Linked DNA regions of Homo sapiens: all the other regions are linked to region 1. The links come from fine-mapping of genetic effects on gene expression. A gene starts in region 1. Each other region holds a variant in brackets. All regions are shown on one strand. Distances are from middle to middle.

The links.
Region 2: its variant is fine-mapped to the expression of INPP5D in whole blood (INTERVAL, PIP above 0.99).
Region 3: its variant is fine-mapped to the expression of INPP5D in testis (GTEx, PIP above 0.99).

Annotation. Positions count from the first base shown.
Region 1 is chr2:233,058,117-233,063,335 of GRCh38, forward strand. INPP5D (inositol polyphosphate-5-phosphatase D) reads left to right here and starts at 2,226. Exons shown (of 27, transcript NM_001017915.3): 1 at 2,226-2,496. The coding sequence starts at 2,363. RefSeq lists enhancers at 1,901-2,180, 2,781-2,870, 3,957-4,550, 4,551-5,144, 5,157-5,219 and silencers at 2,381-2,460, 4,531-4,580.
Region 2 is chr2:233,167,058-233,172,276 of GRCh38, forward strand. INPP5D (inositol polyphosphate-5-phosphatase D) reads left to right here. Exons shown (of 27, transcript NM_001017915.3): 14 at 2,248-2,344; 15 at 2,969-3,107; 16 at 3,439-3,547; 17 at 4,007-4,095. Among named protein-coding and RNA genes, the nearest start is that of ATG16L1, 82 kb to the right of the region's middle. The variant T/C (reference allele first, on the strand shown) is at 2,703.
Region 3 is chr2:233,156,762-233,161,980 of GRCh38, forward strand. It overlaps INPP5D (inositol polyphosphate-5-phosphatase D), which reads left to right. Exons shown (of 27, transcript NM_001017915.3): 10 at 1,552-1,658; 11 at 4,963-5,065. Among named protein-coding and RNA genes, the nearest start is that of ATG16L1, 92 kb to the right of the region's middle. The variant G/A (reference allele first, on the strand shown) is at 2,477.

The sequences.
Region 1 (5,219 bases):
ACTCCTGACCTCAGGTGATCCACTCCCCTCAGCCTCCCAAAGTGCTGGGATTACAGGTGTTAGCCACTGTGCCTGGCCACTCTCTAGCCATTATTTGAAGTCTTCATTGATAAATCACTATCCCTCACATGAGTTTGTGAATTTTGTAATACGTTAAAATTATTTATATTGACTGGAGACCTACAAAAAAAAAAAATCCACCCACCAAAAGGGCAGCTCTGATCTAGATACTGGGATTTCCTGAATGTGGAGGGCAGAAGGGTGGGGGACAAGCCAGCTGACCATGCTGGATAGATCAGGCAATTGGGTGGAAAAGGAAGCAAAGTTGGGATGGGCCTTAAAAATGAGGGAAGAGTGCCCGTGTGGCGTGTGTGCCAGGGGATCTCACTCTGTGGAATGGCAAGGACCGTGGGAATAGAGGTGTGAGAGGTGGGGGGCTGGGGGTTTGGGGGAAGCTCTCTAAGTAGGGCAGTCTTGGCATGGTAGGGGTCTCTAGAGATGAGTGGGTGGAGGTGTAAAGGGACCAGTATTGCAAATGGATCCTCCTGGTGGCGTGGTCCAGGACTTCATGGATGTTGGTGGAGGCCAGCAGGGAAGTGAGAAGGGTGTGAAGGTACACAATGGGAGCATAGGAGATGACCCCATAAGGAGGGGGTGGACAGGTGCTGAGTGGAGGCGTGGGTGGGGAATGAGAGGCCTCCACACTGGGCTGCTGCAGAGGTGGCGTGCTGCGGAAGGGCCGGAGCATGGAGGCCAGTTCCCATCACCACTCTATCCCCACGCCTGGCTCCCAGCCTGGCCAGAGGTCCTTGACTGGGAGTGCTTTGTCTGCCCTACAGACTCGCCTGCCATGTGTGTTGCTCAGCGGGGAGGTGCTGGGGGCCCTGTTCTGGGACAACCATCAGTGTGACACATGTTGAGCCCCTGGGCACATGTGAGCTCTTTTACGAGCTACGTCCTTCAAGTTAGACAAGAAGAAACCAAGGCCGAGAGAGAGAAGAAACTTGACCAGGTTCCCACAGCTTGAATGTGGTGGCGCTGCCTGGCTGGTGCCCCTTCCTGGAGGGAGTCTGTTGTCATGTCCTGGAGGCCAAGGCCTGGATGTGGGATGGTGGGGGCACTCTTTGTGCAGCGGGTCAACACGTGCCCCTTCGGCCTTGGTGGGCCGGACCCAAGGACGGAAGGTGCCCAGGTCTGGGGGCTGAGGGATGGGTGTCCACCGCAGAGCCCTCAGAAATGACTGGTCCTGGATGGCGGTCCCTGGAGAGGCAGCTCCTCTTTGAGTGGTGGGCATATGTGGCCATGCCCAGTCTTGGAGGCGGTGCAGTCCGACCGGCCACCCCGACTGCTGAGACGCAGGACTCAGCACCCAGTGTTGTCCTTGGCCAGGCGGCCAGCCTGCCCTGTGGGGCTTTGGGGTTCTCCTCTCCGAGCTTGTTTCCCCAGCATCCTGGAGAAGCCCAGGGAAAAACCCAGCCTATGTTCCCGCTGTAAACGGCCCACATCCCCTCCAAGCTCCCTTTGTGTGTCTCCAAGCTGGACTGCAGGGATCAGAGCTGTGCTGCCCGTGCAGCACCCACCCGCCCCTGGGAATGAGGGTAATGGGGTCACAGAGCCATCACTTGGACCTTGGCGCCCTCGGCTGGTGGCAGCCAAGGTCTCCCAGCACCCAGGCCGCTGGGAGTCTCTAAAGGGGAGGGGTGGGGCTCGACTGTCCCCTCCCCCTCAAGTTTGCTCTGTCCTGGGCAGGCCGTAGTCCCAGTTGAGAAGCTGTGCCCCCTTGGGTGTTTTGGAGGTTCAGGGTGGGTGCTGAAAAGCCCTGAGGGAGAGCAGAAGGCTCGGGGGCCTGTCTAGGGCATGGCATCCCACGTGGGTGTCAGCACGGCCGCAGAAGAACCACTTCTCTGGCCCACCCATGCCTGCTAGGCCATGCTTCTTCAGAAGTGGCCACAACTCTCCTGACGTCTCCAGAGCCGGTCATTCCACCCAGGGGGACTTCAGCTGCCACTGGACACTTCAATTGTACGCTGCGACCAGTTGCCAGGAAGGAGAGGGCTGGCAAGAGAGCCGCGGCAGCCGTGGCAGGGTGTAGGGGACGGTGGACGGCCAGGGCCCCCCCCTCTCTCTCTTTCTCTCTCTCTCTCTTGCTTGGTTTCTGTAATGAGGAAGTTCTCCGCAGCTCAGTTTCCTTTCCCTCACTGAGCGCCTGAAACAGGAAGTCAGTCAGTTAAGCTGGTGGCAGCAGCCGAGGCCACCAAGAGGCAACGGGCGGCAGGTTGCAGTGGAGGGGCCTCCGCTCCCCTCGGTGGTGTGTGGGTCCTGGGGGTGCCTGCCGGCCCGGCCGAGGAGGCCCACGCCCACCATGGTCCCCTGCTGGAACCATGGCAACATCACCCGCTCCAAGGCGGAGGAGCTGCTTTCCAGGACAGGCAAGGACGGGAGCTTCCTCGTGCGTGCCAGCGAGTCCATCTCCCGGGCATACGCGCTCTGCGTGCTGTGAGTACAACCTGCTCCCTCCCCGGGCACAGATATGACAGAGGGGCTTAGAGGGGGCCCAGCTTTGAGATGGGTTGTTCTTATGTCACAGGACAGAGTGATCTGACATGCACACTTCCCCGCCACCCTGTCATGGACCTTGTCCTTGGAGTTCAGAGAGCTGGTCTCATGGCAGGTTTTGCAGCCTTGGAGCTGTCAGAACCACTCTGAGGCCTGATGTTACACCCCAGCTTCCCATGAGCTGTATGGACCTTGTGGCTTCCTTGGAGTCTGGGGACCGAGAGAAGGGAGTTTGGGCTTTTGGAGCCAGGAGGAAGCTCAGGGCTCTGTGGAGGTGGGTGTGTTAGAGATCAGCTCAAAGATGCCCAGCTCAGAAACCCTGAGAAGAGCAAAGGTGGCAAGGGGGACCCTTCCTGGAGCACCCAGGCTTCGGGCCCCTGGAGGAAGCTGTTGTTTGGCGAGCCAAGAATATGGGGTGAGTTTAATCAAGAAAGGACTTTCCATTCAGTCAGAAGCTGCTTTCAGGGGCCTGAGAGCAGAGGAAGTCACCATTACCACCAGCGAGCAGCCTCTTCTCTCTCCTGAGCACTTGGCTGTGACCGCTGCCCACCCCCCACCCCCTCAATTTGGGTCTCTGTCACCATCAACTCCTCCCACTGCCCGGTTGGGGATGTTACTGAATGTACCAGCTGTGCTAACAATGGAGGAACCAGCCACTTGCTGAAGGTTCCTTTCTAAAACCCCCTTCCTGTCCAGCGTCTGAAGGAGGCCCTTGCCCTGCAGCTCTCGGTCTAATCATAGGGGGGCCTTGCCCTGCAGCTCTTGGTCTAATCATTTTGCCGGGGCCTCAGGCAGTGCCGGAGTGTAGTCAGGGAAATGTGTGTCCACCTGAACATCTCAAGTAGCATCCCTGGGCTGGCAGAAATGTTCCCCCGAGCAGCCAGGGCCTTGTGCTTCTCCAGGCAGGAGGGGAATTGGGTGATGAACCCAGACCTGTTTTGAATACTGACTCACAGCTGGGACCTGTCGTGCTAAGCATTTGTTAGCCCATTTCATCCTCACCACAACCTAAAGTGAAGGTCCTGTTAAAAGCCCCACTTTGCAGATGAGAAATCTGAGGCCCTGGCAGGTTAAGTGAGTGACAACAGTCAAAGCCACGGCCATCTGCCCCCAGAGGCTGCAGCTGAGACCAGCAGCCTGTGGCCCAACCTCTCCTGCTCCCAGTCCAGCGGGGCAGGCATGTAGCCTTGCAGGGCTGGAGAAAGAAGCAAGGGGAGCCACAGTGTTTACAGGGTCAGCTGGGGCACTGGAAACCAAGCCAGGCTCGCAGCTGGTCGCTGGCCTGTGCTGACAGTCTGCAGCCCCACCTCCAAAGACTGGTTTCCTGTGTCCCCTCTCTCATGCCTCAGGGGAAGGAACGCAGGCCCAGGCTGCCTGGACTTCCCCAGTGGGGACCTGCTGCTGCCGGGGCCTTAGAAGGAGCAGGAAGATTCTCTTAGGCCTCTCACAAGCCCAGTCTGACTCCACCTGGCCCATGTGGGTTACTTGGATTTCTCTCCTGGCCCAGTGGGATCTTGTCCTGGCTGTTTGGTGTTGGCTGAGCCGAGGGCTTCCAGGGCCCCATCTCATTAACCTTCAACACAGCCCTTTGACCAGGGCTTGCTTTGTGGTTGCTCAGGTTACAGACATGGGGCGTGGGTCTCTCTGACTCCGAGCCGTGAGCATCTTAACGTCTAGGATTAGCCTGAGCCAGAGTCAGAGCTGGAGAGGCCTTGGAGAAGCTCTGGTGCAACAGCCCTGGCTTTTCAGGAGGTAGACAGAGGGCAGAGAGCCTGAGGCCTTTGTCCACCATGCTGGCTGGGGTCAAAACTGCTGGGATCCAGGCCAGTTCTCGTATTCCTTCCTCTACCTCTTCTCTCTGAACCCTTGTCTGCACTGAGTTCTCTCAGAGTCATGATGGGTGTGCAGTGTCTGCTCCTTAGAGAGGGACCTGTGGTGCCTACAGATGTCCACTATCCTCTCAGCCGAAGCCTCGTCAGCCTCCTATCCTGAGGCTGCTGGGCTGCAAACACCAGGAGTCCCACCCCTTGGCCAGACAAACCCTGGGCTCAGTGTTTCCCTTTCTCCTCTGCTCAGGGTGGGAAGCTTCCCTTCCTGCAGGGTCAGGCTCCACTGTAGGCCGTGGGTTGCTATGGACCTGCAGACTTTCCATACATCTGCAGGCTTCATATGGCTGCCACCCTGGATTTTGCCAATTACGGAGATTTTAAAACTAAAAACTAATTAAATGAATGATAACAAACTGTCATCTTCCAACACCTCATTTCTTGAAAGAAAGCAGCCTTTGACACCAAAAGAGGCAGGAAGGGCATTAAAAAAAAAAAAGCCAGTCATTTAAAGCAAAGAGATTGAACTTCTTGAAAAACAAACCCTACCACCCTTAGTTTTCTGTGTTCCCTGCAGAGTCGCCGTGGCCTGACGGAGACGGCAGAGGCAGACAGTCCCAGGCTGAGGGGTGTGCAGGGCAGCCGGGTTTTCTGCGGCTGCAGAAGTAGCAGGCTTTGCCCCCCTAGCCCTGGAAGCCTGGAGCCACCCTGCTCTAGAAGTGACTGCAGAAGGAAGCCACACACTCACCCTCCTGCCCTAGCAAAGTCCATGGGAAAAGTATACCTGCCCCATGGCCCCTCAGATCACCCAGGTGCCCTGACCTCATCCTGCCTGGG
Region 2 (5,219 bases), 110 kb after region 1:
GCTTTGAATCATCTCATTTGATATAAACACCCTGCTAGGCACGATGGCTCATGCCTATAATCCCACACTTTGGGAGGCCAAGGTGGGAGGACCTCCTGAGACCGGGAGTTTGAGACCAGCCTGGGCAACATAGGAAGGTACCATTTCTACAAAAAAAAAAAAAAAAAAAATGGCATAGTAGTGCATGCCTGTGGGCCCAGCTACTCAGGAGGCTGAGGTGGGAGGATCACTTAAATCTGGGAGGTCAAGGCTACAGAAAGCCATGATTTTGCCACTGCACTCCAGCCTGGGCGACACAGACTTTGTCTCAAATTAGAAAAAAAAATACAAACACTCGGGCAGGGACTCTTATTATTCCCATTTGCAGATGAAGAAACAGAGTCTATGGAGATGATCCATAACTTGCCCAAGGCCCCGGGATAAGAATGTGGTGGGCAGGGATTGAAACCAGGCTGTCGGGACTGGAACCAGTTGCTCAGTTCCAGGTCACCCTCCCAGGTTGCGGGCAGAGGGGCAGGGCTGGAGAGCTAGGTGCAGTGGAGAGGGCTGGAGGGCAGAAAGCCTGTGTACTCCCCCACTGGGTCCTGACAAGGTTGAGCCAGGTGATATCCAGGGGTCCCTTCAGCCTATGGCCTATCCAGAGCTGTCCAACCAAAAGAAAATGGGGCCGGGTGCCGTGGCTCACGCCTGTAATCCTAGCACTTTGGGAGGCTGAGGCAGGCAGATTGCCAGAGCTCAGTAGTTTGAGACCAACCTGGGCAACACGGTGAAACCTCGTCTCTACTAAAATACAAAAAATTAGCTGGGTGTGGTGGTGGGTGCCTGTAGTCCCAGCTACTCCTGAGGCAGAGACAGGAGAATTGCTTGAACCTGGGAGACGGAGGTTGCAGTAAGCAGAGATCGCGCCACTGCACTCCAGCCTGGGAGACAGAGTGAGACTCTGTCTCCAAAAAAAAAAAAAAAAAAAAGAAAGAAAGGAAGAAAAGAAAATGATGGGAGCCAAATAGATCATAAATAAATAGATTTATGATCAAAATAGATTACAATTTGATTTATTACAATCAATAGATCAAATTTTCTAGTAGCCACATTAAAAAGAAAACAAGTGAAATTAATTTCAATAATAGATTTTATTGAATTTCATACATCCAAAATACAATTATTTCAATAGATATTTAATGTAAAAGGTTATTAGATATTTTACAGTCTGTGTTTCTTACCAAGGCCACAATTCCAATGTGTATTTTACACTCACAACCTGTCTCATTTTGTACCAGCCACATTTCAGGTGTTTGATAGTCACATGTGGCCTGTGCCTGTATTGGACAGAGCAGGTTCTCACCTGCATGTGTCAGAATCACCTAGAGCAGGGGTTAACAAGCGTTTTCCATAGAAGGCCAGATGGTGAATATTCTAGGCTCTTTGGGCCACACAACTGTCACAATGCTTCAGCTCTGCCATCGTAGTCTGAAAGCAGCTACAGACAATCCAGAAGTCAATAGGCATGGCTGTGTTCCAGTAACGTGTTCTTTACGAACACTGAAATTTGAATTTCGTATTTTCATGAATGACAAAAGATGGTTTTTCTTTTGATTTGTTTCCAACCATTTACAAATGTAAAACCATTTGTAGCTGGCAGTGAGCCAGCATTTGCCCACCCCTGACACTGGAGGGCTTGTCAAACACAGATTACTGGGCCCCATCCCAGGATTTCAGATTCAGTAGGTCTGGGGTGGGGCTGAGAATCTGCCCTTCCATGAAGTTCCCAGGTGATGTGCAGCTGCTGGTCCAGGGAACTCCCTTTGGGAACCACTGACCTAGAATAGATCAGAACGTTGGCAGAAAAAGGTATGATCTCAGTGTGGGTTTTTGGTCTCCCCAGGAAACTTGAGTTCACTGGGAGGGAGATCAGCCCACCCAGGCTGGAACCTTCTGAATCTTCCCAGGGCTTCTGGCTGCCCGCTTAGCACCCTGGTCACTTTAGAGAGAGATGCCGGGGGAGGATCGCAGCAGCCACCTTCCTCTGCCCCGCCGAGAAGGCTGAGGCTGCCGCCATCTGCACTGCTCCTGCATTTTCTCATCTCCCGCTCTCTGCCCAGCGGCTCCCACCCTGCACGACCCTGTTTCGCCCATCCCTTGCCAGCTCCTCACTCACTGCCCCTCTCACCCTGCCTTCGGGTGATTTCTGGCCCCTTGGCAAGTGTGTCTGTTTGATATTTTGATTCTTCTTTCTGCTCTTCTTTTTAGGGAACAAGGGAGCCGTGGGGGTGTCGTTCATGTTCAATGGAACCTCCTTAGGGTTCGTCAACAGCCACTTGACTTCAGGAAGTGAAAAGAAACTCAGGTAATGGAACTCCTTCCCCCCAAGAGTGTGCATTTGGGCTGTCTGCCCAGACACGCCTCACACCTTTAAGCACCAGAAGGACCTGCTCAGCTCCTGCCTTTGACCTTGTGGATGTCCTGTGGCCTTTCAGGGCCCACCACAGTCTCATCAAAGGCAACTGCAGCACCATAGTGACCTCACGTGTGGAGGAATTTTGTCTGAAGGTCAGAAAAGATATTTCCTTGTGTCATTAGCCTGATGGACCGCTAACTAGCACTGTTTCTAAAGCAGAAAGCCTCCTCTGGGGCCTCCTTACAAATCCAAGCTGATCTTGCCTAGCTGGGGCCCAGGAATGAAGACAGCCATCTAGAATCTTCAC[T/C]GTTCTGATTCTCTGCTGAGCAGATGCTGCTGCTCCTGGTCCCCTGCCCTCTGTACACCCAATGTGGCCTCAAATGCCCTTTGCATCCTGGCTGTGCCATATTTGCACACTAAGGAGTTCTGCTGCAGCAGGGCTGGAGGGCTAAGTCTCACTTCCCCCCACCTGCTATGCTCCTCGCCCCACACCTATGGCAGGAGTGACTTCCTGCCACAGTGGAGGGGGAACCAGTGACCCCGTGCTAGATGGCCGCTTTTTCCTTGCATTAGGCGAAACCAAAACTATATGAACATTCTCCGGTTCCTGGCCCTGGGCGACAAGAAGCTGAGTCCCTTTAACATCACTCACCGCTTCACGCACCTCTTCTGGTTTGGGGATCTTAACTACCGTGTGGATCTGCCTACCTGGGTAAGGGCTGCCCGCCTGGGGCTGGGGCTGGGGCTGTATGAGATGGAGGCTCCCTTGAGTCAGCTTGGGGCAGGTGGTCGTGGAGACATGTGAATCAAGTGGGCTGAGGCGGCTGCTCCCCTTGGGGGCTCAACGCTGTTTCCATTACTGAGCCTCAGCCGCTCCTCACGGTTCCCCTGTGCTCACACCCGGTTCCCATAACTGTCACAGCCACCCTGCCACCATCACTCTGCAGCCCGGGTCATCCAGCTGCCCGCCCCCAGCCCCGAAGCTTGTCAGGCCTGGATCAGCAGGGCTTCTCACCAGAGGCCCGGGCATGTTCTTGTTCCAGGAGGCAGAAACCATCATCCAGAAAATCAAGCAGCAGCAGTACGCAGACCTCCTGTCCCACGACCAGCTGCTCACAGAGAGGAGGGAGCAGAAGGTCTTCCTACACTTCGGTAAGAGCAGCAACCCCGGCTGGGAGCGGTGGCTCACACCTGTAATCCCAGCACTTTAGGAGGCCGAGGCGGGCGGATCACGAGATCAGGAGATGGAGACCATCCTGGCTAACACAGTGAAACCCCGTCTCTACTTAAAAAAATACAAAAAATTAGCCGGGTGTGGTGGCGGGTGCCTGTAGTCCCAGCTACTTGGGAGGCTGAGGCAGGAGGATGGTGTGAACCAGGGAGGCAGAGCTTGCAGTGAGCCAAGATCGCGCCACTGCACTCCAGCCTGGCCAACAAAGACAGACTCCGTCTCAAAAAAAAAAAAAAAAAAAGCAGCAGCCTCTCCTCTTGGAGCCTTTCCAGCCATCCTTTCGTCCCCTTTCCCCTGATTTCCTACCAGAAGAATAGGGAAAATTGGCCAGATGCAAAACCTGGGGAATCAGAATTAAAACGAAAGTCTCTCTGTTTCAGAGGAGGAAGAAATCACGTTTGCCCCAACCTACCGTTTTGAGAGACTGACTCGGGACAAATACGCCTACACCAAGCAGAAAGCGACAGGGGTGAGTCCTCTTCATAGACACCTTCCCTGCCCTCCATCTCCTCCCCGCTGGTGTCTGTTCCCAAAAGGTGAACAGAAAGTGTCTTCATCCATTAGGCAAAAAAAAAAGGAAAGAAAAAAATTAGAAAGCACATGTTGATTTGTGTTACAGAGTAAATGGGAAGCCACACTTGTGCACTGCTTTGAGCTGGGAAAATAACCCTTGTGATTTACCTTCTGTCCAGATACTCTAAGATGCTGAGAGGACTTTAAAGTATTATTTCCTTAACTGGGTTCTGAAGATCATTTTTTTAAAGTCCCGTGATCAAATATATTTACTAAACTGCTGAGTGAATTAACATTAAGCAGGTTTCTTCGCTGCAGGACTTATCAGAGCTTTTATGGGCCCAAGAGCACTGTGGTTCTCCATGAGGAAATCTGTATGCCAAACTCAGTTATTCATGGAACACCAATTAATGTCTTATGAGGCCACTTGTTTTCCAAGGAACAGTGTTTTGGGGAAAGATGCAATAAAATATGTATTCATTTGTTCAAAGATATTTCCTGATGGCCTATTATGGGTTAGGCACTCTCCTAGGTGATGGGAGAGCAAAGATGTCTTTTCCAGGGACTTCACAGTAGGAAAAACAGATATGCAACTAGCTGTAGCCAGAGCCAGAATGTGACAATGCCAGGGCAGGGAAGGATCAGGGAAGCCAGCCCCTGGCAGGATTCAAGGGTCAAATGGCTGGGACGGTGAGGTACCCAGGCCCACTAGAAGCCTAGGGCAATGGAGCGCAAGTTCAAAGTGTCATCTGAAAGAGTTCTGGGCCCCATCTGGGCTCAGGAGAAAGTGAAGAACTGGACGTGGGAGAGGAAGGCCAAGCGCTGGGTGGATTTTAGAACAGAGCAGGAGAGGAAGAGAATACAACTGAGAGGACAGGAGGAGATCCCGGACTGCTGTCACCCACGAGGCTGGGACCCCCAGGATGGGACACCCCATTCCGCAGGGTCCACTGCCTGCTGTGTGGATAAGGTCACCTGGCCCAAAGGCACTGTCAGAGCAGGTCCTTGGGGATCCCTGTGCAGGCTGGTGAAGGATGGTTTGCTTTGATGTGAGTTTAAGTTGAGGCAGAGGAGGGCCTG
Region 3 (5,219 bases), 99 kb after region 1:
CCAGATTACAGACTCCCAAAAGGAAAACAGGTGCTCAGCATAAACCATATTGTTTGTACAAACAATGTAGGCACAGCAAGCCACTCATCAGCTCTGGGAGTGGTGGGAGCCCTCCCGAAATCTAAGTTCCCAGATGACAGCAGAAAGCCAGCCTTTCAAGCAAGCCCTTCTAAGGACAGCAGTCTCGGGTCTGTTGTGCTAACTCTTTTCTGAACAAGAGAATCAGAATGACATTGTTTCTCCAGCAATCCTGAAAACTAGAGATGATGGAACAAGGTTCCAGAGTCCGGAGGAGAATTATTTCAAATTTAGAGTTCTGTCAGTTAAGTGTGAGGGTCGAATTCTCAGACACGCAAGGCCTCTAAAAATGTATCACCGATTCTTCCTTTCTTGGAAAGCCACTAGAGATGCTGCTCTACCAAAATGAGGGTGTAAACCAAGAAGAGGAAGACCTGGGGTCCAAGAAATGGGATTTAATACGAGAGAGAGAAACGTATTCCTGGATTATGAAGTAAGGCCCCAAGGTAAAGGCTGTGCCTCGGCCCTTGAAGTCACCAGTCCAGAGAAGACCCAGAAGCTCTGGGAAAGGCTCCCTCAGGACAAAGGAACTGATGAAAGTAGTTGGTCACATGGAAAAGAGAGTTATAAACTGGGGAAGAATTAGAAACAATAAAAAAAAAAAGTATGGCAATTACTAACTCCAGGAATAACACAAAGTTGTCTAGAAAAAGAGAAACATTCAGGGCTGGTCTGTCAATAGCATTTTGATAATCAGAATAACAAACACTGAGTACTTATCTGGCCAAAATTATGATATAATTGTTAGAAGGATGATGTGGGGACTGAAATTATGCATTGGCAGGGAGTCAAGTTGGGGGAGCAGGTTGTGTGTGTGAAAGAAATTTCAACCTCATCTTCCATAGTGGACAGTCAAAAATGTAATAGGACATAATGAAAACTGAAACATCGGAAAGTATTAATCTAAGCATTTTTTTTTTTTAAGAAACAGAGTAGAATTCCAAAAGAATCCATTAAGAGAGTTGAAATTGGTTGCCTGTAGGGAGCTGGACATTGAAGAGAGGTTGGGTTGTGGAGGACTATTGTTTGCAAAAACCTTATAGAACAACTTGACTCTTTTAATTGTTGATGACAGTAAAATGTAAAATTAAATTTAGATATAAATTAAAAACAAAGCAAAAGAAGGAAAGGAGGAAGAGTAAGGAAGAAAGGAGGGAGGGAGAAGAGGAGGAAGAAGAGGAGAAGGAAGAAGAGAGAGGGGAAGGAGGGAGGCAGGGAGAAAGATGAAAAGACGATCACGCTGTCTCTGCTCTGGACAGGCCAACTCTTGCTTGTTCCAGACATCACCCTCCCCAAGCATGAGCCTCTCTTGGGAAGAGCAGCTGGAAGCAGAGGGAGCTGGGAGACCAGACACAAACTCGGGGCTCAGCTTGGGGACGGGAGTTGATAGTCAGGTGCCTGGAACATAATGGAGACCGTCCATATTGGTTGAATGAGTGGATGAATGAATTAATGAATTTCTTTTCTCTTAAGTCCTGCAGCTCATTAAGTCACAGAAATTTCTGAATAAGTTGGTGATCTTGGTGGAAACAGAGAAGGAGAAGATCCTGCGGAAGGAATATGTTTTTGCTGACTCCAAAGTAAGTGACAGCAAACTTCTAAAATGGGCTGTGAGGTAGGGAGGGGACACAAGCGTTTTGAGGCTCGCTGTGTGCCAGGGAGTGTATCATTAGCTCACTCAGTTCCCAGAACAACCCATTTCACACCTGGGAAAGGTGAACTTAGAGAAGTTGAGGATCATGTTCCAGGTTGGCCTGGATTTGAGCCATCACTGTCTCAGGAGTAGGGAGGCTTCCCACTTTGCCCAGCTGCCTCCCAGCCTCGAGGCCACATCCTTTATGACCCACATCTAACTCAGCCCCACACCTGGGGGAAAGGCTTTCAGCTTCTCTGGGCTGGACTTGGGAAATCTTTGGGACACTCCTGGATTGATTGATTGATTGATTGACTGACTGACTTGAGACAGCGTCTCGCTTTACCATCTAGGCTAGTGCAGTGGCGTGATCACAGCTCACGGCAGCCTCCACCTCCTGGGCTCAAGGGATCCCCCCACCCACCTCAGCTGAGGTGAGACAAGTAGCTGAGACCACAGACACACACCACCAGCTAATTTTTTATATTTTGTAGAGACAGAGTCTCGCCGTGTTTCCCAGGCTGGTCTCGAACTCCTGGGCTCAGGCAATCTTCCCGCCTCTGTCACCCAAAGTGCTGGTATTATAGGTGTGAGCCACCCCTGGATTTAAATCTGAGTCTCGACTGGAGCTCCATCCCAGAGACTTTCATTTCTACACTTTGCCCCGCTCTGCAGAAGTGAGATGCCCCTGCCAGGATGGGTTCCTGGGGTAAGAGGTGCTGTGGGCCACTGGGGAAACCCAGGCTGGGCCTCTGTGCCCCCACA[G/A]TGGGTTCTTTGTGACCTGACCCCTCATCTCAGAAATTTGAACCAGGGCCAAAACCTATCATCGTGAACCTCATTCATTGTTCTCTGCCATGCAGCTCGTGTGAGGCAGTAAAAATGGATTGCACCAGCCTGAACAGCCTAGTCAGACCCCATGTCTACAAAACAAAAAAATTAGGCCAGGCACAGTGGGTGCCTTATGCCCATAATCCCAGCACTTTGGGAGGCTGAGGCGGGACGGTTGCCCGAGACCAAGAGTTCGAGACTAGCCTGTGCAAGATGGTGAGACCTCATCTCTACGAAAAAAAAAATAGCTGGGTGTGGTGGCATGAGCCTGTAGTTTCAGCTACTTGGGAGGCTGAAGTGGGAGGATCGCTTGAACCCAGGAGTTTGAGGCTGCAGTGAGCTATGATCACACCACTGCACTCCAGCCTAGATGACAGAGCAAGATCCTGTCTCAAAAAAAAAAAAAAAAAAAAGATTGCAGCGCAATAAGGGTGTCCATCACATCAGGTGCTGGCTGACATCTCACATCAGGGACCCCCAGCAAGGCCAAGGGACAAGCGCTTCTGGTGCAGGCCCACAGTGATAGCTTCCCACTGAGTGCCCAGTCTCCGCTCCTACTTTCACCTCCAAAGCATCAGGGGTGGGCTGGTGGGAGGTCTAAGGTGTCCAGAGCTGTCAGGAATAATAGGGAAGGGTCTGGGAGAAACAAGAGAATGGGGCCCAGACAGGTGGTGGGAGATGGAGAGAAAGACCGCTGGGCTGGAATGCTTTCTGAGCACCTGGGCATAGGTTCAAACACCAGCTCTGCCCCATTGCTGCGACCTCAAAAGGACTGAGGCACAGGGATAAATGGAGGCCATGAATCTTGAGCCACTCCCAACTCGAGGCAGGTTATAGTAAAGATGGTCATTATGACATCTTTGTGAGCTGGTGTCTTCAGGGAGGACTTACTGAGATTTGCAATTATAAGGTTGAATCATGTAAAATTTCTGTCTTTGCAGGTTGAAACAGTCAAACACTGGTCATGTCATATGTTACACCCTGAAATTTGTGTACTTTGTTAAAGTCCGCCTGCTCTATTGATTGCATCCTAAGAGAGGGCCAACTGAGGCTGCTTGGTGCCCCACTGGGTACCCCAGAAAAATACGTGAAAAATATTGAGTAGGCTATGAAAGCCTTCATGTCCTCTCTTCTTTTTAATTAGTTTCTTTAATTTAAATGTTCTTTCATTACATAAGTAATCTATTCTCCTTGGTGAAGACGTGGCAAACACAAACAAGCAAATGTTTAAAATAAAAACACTCGTATACCATGAGTTAATCTGGGACTATGCCCCTTCCAGATGTTTTTTAATTTTCTCTTTCTTTCTTCCTTCCCTTCTTTCTTTCTTTTTCTGTTTCTTTTCTTTTCTGAGACAGGGTCTTGTTCAGTTGCCCCGGCTGAAGTGCAGTGGCAAGATCATGGCTCACTGCAACCTCAACTTTCTGGCCTCAAGTAATCCTCCCACCTCAACCTCCTAAGTTGGGAGGGACTACAGGCATGCACCACCATGCCTGGCTAATTTTTTTATTTTTTGTAGAGGCAGGGTTCCCCTATGTTGCCCAGGCTGGTCTCAAACTCCTGGGATCAAACAATCCTTCTGCCTCAGCCTCCCAAAGTCCTGGGATTACAGGCATGAGCCACTGTGCCAGGCCCAAATGTTTTATTAAAAATGCAATGATGCTATTCATATCATTTGTCAACTAGCTTTTCATGCTTAAAAATATATATTGTGGCCACCTGTCCTTGTTGGCAAGATAGTTCTGGATCACACTTGTTAAACACTGTGATATTCTAGTTTATGGATGGTCTAGAATACTTTTTTTTTTTGAGACAGACTCTAGCTCTGTTACCCAGGCTGGAGTGCAATGATGCGATCCTGGCTCACTGCAACCTCCACCTCCTGGGTTCAAGCAATTCTTCTGCCTCAGCCTCCCGAGTAGCTGGCATTACAGGCAAGCACCACCACGCTTGGCTAATTTTGTATTTTTAGTAGAGACAGGAGTTTCACCATGTTGGTCAGGCTGGTCTCGAACTCCTGACCTCAGGTGATCCACCCACCTCGGCCTCCCAAAGTGCTGGGATTACAGGCATGAGCCACCACACCTGGCCCTCTGATACATTATTAATGAATCTCCTAAGGCTGGACAGTAAGGTTGCTTCTGATTTTTTTCTGTGCTGAGGCCTGTGCTGCAGAGCCGTGACAGGGTTGGACTTCTGCGCAGCTCCTGATCACTTTGTTAAAGTCGCACCTTTGCAGGGGAGTGTCTAGGCCAGAAGCCACTCGCTTATGACTTTGGACACATGTTTCCAGGTTGCTGTCCTGGAAGTTCACACTGATTTACGCTCCTCTCAGTTTTCTTGAAGCTGACCAAGTCCTTTGCAAAGTGTAATGTGCAGGGAGGCAGAGGCCTTTCTAAGTCTGTCTGCCCTTCCATCCCTAGAAGAGAGAAGGCTTCTGCCAGCTCCTGCAGCAGATGAAGAACAAGCACTCAGAGCAGCCGGAGCCCGACATGATCACCATCTTCATCGGCACCTGGAACATGGGTGGGTCCGCGCGCCCCCTCCCTGCAGTCACCCCCTCTGCTTCTGCTTTCCTGACTCAGGCATCCTCAAGGTGGGGTGGAGTGACGACATCCATGTCCCCTTCCTTCCTGCCCCAGGGCCCTGCCCCTAAGCCCCAGCCCACCCGCACAACCTC